Linked DNA regions of Homo sapiens: region 2 is linked to region 1. The links come from fine-mapping of genetic effects on gene expression. Tissue or cell type: whole blood. Region 1 holds a variant in brackets; the other region holds the start of a gene. All regions are shown on one strand. Distances are between the middles of the regions.

Region 1 (2,687 bases):
ACCCAGAATTATCAGGAACATAGCTCTGTGATTCATGAGTGTCCCCATACTGATGAATTGGAGCATCCATATGGAAAGCAAAGGCAGAATTATCCCAGCTGTATTATTTTGATCTTTTGGATGCAGGTGCCTTAATGAAGCTCTCAAAATATTTTAGGAGCTGCTCAGGGAGTGTTGGGTGGAACTGTTTGGACTACATTGTTTTCTCTTAGATTATGTGATTTTTGTTGGGCACTGGCAAAAGGTGTGTGTGTGAATGTGTGCATGTGTGTGAATGTTGTGTGTGTGTGTGTGTGTGTGTGTGTGTGTGTGTGTGTGTGTGTTTGCAGACATGCAAAACTGCAGCTGAAATAATACCTTAGATTTCTAGGTAAGTCTTTCCACATTTCAATAATGGGTAAGAGTAGAACCAGGGCCGGGTATCAATTATTGCTTGCTGTTTGCAACCAGGCATAAAATCACTTTCTCAAATCATCCACCGTTCCTATTAAATTTATGCCGGAAACTCTCCTTCTGTGAGTATAACTCCTGCAGTTCCTATAGCAGATAAGATATAAGAAAGTGCCTCCTAGTGCTCCTCCGCCCGCTTGTTTGCTAAAATTCCCTTTCTCTCTAAGTCCACCATTTTCAAGATTTGTAGATAGTGTATTAGTTAAGACAGCTTTGTCGATCTGGCCAGATGTTTTTTCTCCTTTGTCCAAAGGCCAGAGACCATCCCAGGAAGAGTGGTGGGTGGTTTATACACTGGAAATGTTGCGTTTATGCTTTTTAAAAACACACGTTAACTTCAGAGGAAGGATGGGCAAATCTGGTCTAGCTGGGTGAAACCCTTATTTTCCCAGAGATGCCTTAACCTTTGTTGGTTTTGGCTTTAGGGTTCAGAGTCACTTTTGTTCCCTTCTCCATTCTGGAGAGGGACTTCCCCTACATAGAGCCCTGATTTTTGTGGCTGTGGGGATTGGAGGTAGCATTCAAAGATCAGATGTGCTTTTCCTCACTTTGGAGATGAACACTCTGGGTTTTACAGCATTAACCTGCCTAACCTTCATGGTGAGAAATACACCATCTCTCTTCTAGTCATGCTGTGCATGCCGCTTACTCTGTTGGGGTCTATATAAATTTGTTGAACTCTTACCTACATTCCAAAGAAGTTTCAAGGAACCATAAATATATGTATACATATACATATATAAAATATATATATTAAAATAAAATTATCAGGAATACTGCCTCAGTTATTGAACTTTTTTTTTTAAGAATACTTTTTTTTTAAGCTGAGAAGTATAGGGATGAAAAAGATGTTATATTGTGTTTGACTATTTTCCAACTTGTATTTTCATATAATTTATATTTTTTAAAAGCTGAAAATTTAGAAG[C/T]AAGATGAAAAAAAGGAAAAGCAGGTGCTTTTTAAAAATCAGAACTGAGGTAGCTTAGAGATGTAGCGATGTAAGTGTCGATGTTTTTTTAAAAAAAAATGCAAAAAAATTCTTATGGCGGAGTTTTTTGTTTGTTTATTTTAGTAGCTGATGCTGGCACATCATTTTGCTGGAGAGTTTTTTATATACTGTAGCCTGATTTCATATTGTATTTTAAACTGTGTGAAATTAAAAACAAAGAATTTCATTCATAATGCTGTGGCTTTGGCTTGATTCTTTCTTGTCTGGATCATGTATTAAAGCAGGACAAATCAACCAACCAGAGGCAAGCACAGAGGGATGCAGTTTAGTCTTTCTGATCTCACTAGCTCAGGACCATTGGAGATAAAGATTTCCTAATAAGGTGAGAAATATAACAGGAATATAGGGAAGTCATCGAACATCCCAATCTTTGAATATATTGTGTCATCCTTTGTGGAATGTCCCTGGCCTTGTCAGACCTCACTTCTTCATGTCCGAAGGACTAAGAGCCATGTGAAGGAAACGTTTAATGACTCAACAGATAAACATTTGATTTCAGCTACGTACCGTTCCTGATATGAATACAGAAAGTTGAACATCTTTAGTGGATCCTGTGGGAAATGAACAGTATTCTTGTGTCCACCACTGATACTAATTTTGCTCTATGGCAATTTGGGCCCTTCACATCCATCTCCTTGGCCCCAACTCTTTCACTGGGGCTGAAGATTGGGAATAATAATATCTGTCAGAACCCCTAGCAACACATGCCATAAATAAAATCATGTTTATAAGTGCTTTGGAGGGGAGTGCTTAGGAACACCTCATGCATGGTGCTTTTTCCTTGTTGCTGAAACTGTAGAAGGTGGATGTTTTTAATTAACACCAACATTTGCAACATGAATCCCAGCTCACAGCTGGAAAGAGAATTTTTGCTGAATTGTTCACAAAGAGAGCTCTGTTTTTGGAAAATCTGTTTCTTCAGGCCTGGAGCTTGAGGTTTGCTGAGTACATGTTAAGCACGGACTGTGTGGTCTGGTGGTCAGGGAGCAGGACTGGCCGCGAAGAAGGCTTCAGCCCCTCAATCCTGGTCAAGCCACCACCACTCACTGGGAGACTTTGGGAAAAATGGCTTCAGGTCCTTATATTTTGTTTTTAGTTTTCAGCTGCAAACCTGGGAAAAGCCACAACTCCTGAGCCAACCTGAGGCCACATTTGAACTCTTCTCCCGAATAAACAGCACACAGAGAATAGGTTTCTGCTTCAGTCAAGGATTCAACCAGAGAGCTTTTC
Region 2 (2,687 bases), 130 kb before region 1:
CCTTATAGAGCAAGAATCCAAGTCTTCTCAACTTTGTTTTTTTCAATTATCCTGCAAACATAGTGAATACAGTTGTAATTAGTTATGATTGGTATAATTGACCGTGGGCTCTTTAAATGGGGCAGTGTGCTGAAATTGACTGGGTTACAGGGGCAGGCTGAAGCTTCCCTAGCTCTCTTCATAGACTTCTTTTGTAGCATGTATTACATTTTTGGGGGGAGATCGTTGATTTATGTGTCTGTCTCCTCACTACAATGCAAACTTGCTATCTTTCTAGTGCCTAGAACAGTGCCTGGCACAGGCAATTTATTAAACTAAAGTGAACCAATAGCATTACCTCTTCCTTACTTCCAAGTTAATGTGCAAAGGCAGAAGATGAGCAGTAAAATCTTGCTTTACTTACAATGTCATCTTAACTGCATTGCCAGCTTTATACAATGAAGGCTGATGATGATATGGCTCCAAATGACAGTTATTAGATTTTCAAGGATTTTCTAAGTTTGTATCTTTATTAAAAAGAGAAAGAAGCCAACTATGACAAATCTTAACTCCCACCTCCTACTCAAAGAAGATGGAATCTTTTAGGATAAAAGTCTTAGATTAAGCAGCCAAATACTGACTTCTCAAAAAAAATTGTAATAACTCCATTCATAGAAATGAGATTATGCTGTAACATTCTTACCATAGTCCTGAATATGTGAATAAAAGATGCTGTGTATTTTCACTTAGGACAGATGTAAGATTTTCATATTGTTTACATTTTCCCTAAATGAGAAATGTATGAACACTTCTGCCCTTTTATTCCTGCACCACGGACCATGAGTCAGGGCTGCTAAAAGTATCCTTATTTTAGAGATTGCCTAAAACCAGACTTATATGAAAAGGGGATTTTTAGCTTTACTTTTCAGAAATCCCAAGTCCATATCCAGTCAGCTCTCTTCCACAAAATTATTTTCTTTTCTTTAGAAAATATCACATTTCATATCAAGTTATTAGAGAGAAACGGGAAGCCTGAGCAGGTGACTGGGTGGTGGACGTCCTGTGTTTCTAAAGCAATCCCTTTCCCTCACCTGAGACCTTGCCTAGGTTAATGGGGGCTCCATTGAGAAAGTCAAGGAACATGAAGCATGAATATTTACATATTCAGCAGAGAGTAAATGCATCAGCAAATGATGAGGTGAGATACAGTGTTATCCCACTGAACTAGTTCCCTTTTGCTCATCTCCCTCCCTGTTACTCTCCAAGGCTGAGTTATATTCAGCTGAAGCACAATTTGAAGAATACGAAATAATGTGTGATTTGGTGCCACCACTGTCAATCAACAGTGCTTTCCACCTAGACTGCTGTGCCTGTGCCAGTGGCTGCTGTCCTGGTGCCAGGGGCAAGAGGAAGACTGCCTTTTTTCCAGCTTTCCCTGGCTTGACCACACCCCCCAATTTAAGGAGGCAGCTCTATTAGAAACATTATGGTCTTTGCATCCTCTTAAGCTACGGAGCAGAGGATTCCCGCAGGTAGTTGGAAAGAGACCACAGACTTTGAGGGAAGCTCACTCAGGATCTGCTCTCCGGCAAAGTAGTAAGTGAGGTGTGTGTCAGTTTCTGCCTAAAACTTTTCAGTCCATTTTCCTTTTCCTGCTTTAAAAAAATTTCTGTGGAATTAAAGAGTAAGTCGGTAGGGAGATTCAGGATACAAGTGAGTTTTCTCTTTCTCTTTTCACGTCTTTCTATATTCCCATTTAATTGTTTAACAATTTTCAAAAATACTTCCTAACCTCGTCAGAATAGTCTGAAAGCAAGACTATGTTTTTAAAAATGTTCCCTGCTTCACAAAAGTAAAACCATGCACGTTTTAGATACCCGTAGATTACTTGTCAGAAACCCTGATTTTTTTTTTTTTTTTTTGCAAATTGGAGCACTTCCAAAGAAATAAAGCTGTAGTTAAATATATAAATTTCTTTTTATTCTCTTTCACTCCTAGTAAATCTATTGTTTTACTTTTTTCTCCTGCTAGTAGTTTAATGAATTGCTTTTAATAGAGAGGAAATTGCTACAGGTTTGAATCTTGCTAGCCAAACTAGCCTGTTTGGTGTTTTTCTCTGTCTTGGGACTGACCTGCAGTTGTCCAAAGATCTACAAGTTCCTAAGTCTGTTGTTGAGACATGGTGTGGGTGTGGGCCGCGGTTGTCTCAGAGTTAGGGAGGTATTTCTTGTCCCCACGGTAGAGCTGGACTCAGTGGCAGGAGATGTCGATGGCAATTCCTCTGCATCCGGTGATTTTATCTGGCCGTGACACTTTGTATGTGACTCCTCACCCACCGTTAAAGGTCTCTGTTACCAACTTTTAAAGTAGTATTTTCTTCAGGCAAACTTAAAAGGGTGCTGGGTCACTGAAATCAATGCATTCTATTGCAGGATTTCTTTATCACCTTTTGGGTAAGTTTTTGTTTTTAATCTCAAGTCCATTTTCCTTCTTACTTTAGACCACTGCCATGCAACTGAGAAAAAAGTATTTGTTAAACAGCAGGAAATACCAATTCTAAAATGATAACTCCATCAGCTCCATTTGATTTGTAAAATTACTGATACTATAACTCTTTCATCAGTTGTGGTTTTGGGTTTGGTGGCCTATTTTTATCCAAAGAGAAAACGCTTTTTCTTCAGGGGCCGTGGGCTGTGCACAAGGGCTGC

Evidence for each region. PIP is the estimated chance that this variant, and not a neighbour inherited with it, causes the effect.
Region 2: it holds the start of ETS1, and the variant in region 1 is fine-mapped to the expression of ETS1 in whole blood (TOPMed, PIP above 0.99).

Annotation. Positions count from the first base shown.
Region 1 is chr11:128,457,708-128,460,394 of GRCh38, reverse strand. ETS1 (ETS proto-oncogene 1, transcription factor) reads left to right here. Exons shown (of 10, transcript NM_001143820.2): 10 at 1-1,630. Among named protein-coding and RNA genes, the nearest start is that of MIR6090, 63 kb to the left of the region's middle. The variant C/T (reference allele first, on the strand shown) is at 1,377.
Region 2 is chr11:128,586,385-128,589,071 of GRCh38, reverse strand. It overlaps ETS1 (ETS proto-oncogene 1, transcription factor), which reads left to right and starts at 1,514. Exons shown (of 10, transcript NM_001143820.2): 1 at 1,514-1,584. It overlaps LOC105369565 (a long non-coding RNA gene), which reads right to left. Exons shown (of 5, transcript XR_948163.3): 4 at 2,112-2,687; 5 at 1-51. RefSeq lists a silencer at 1,355-1,561.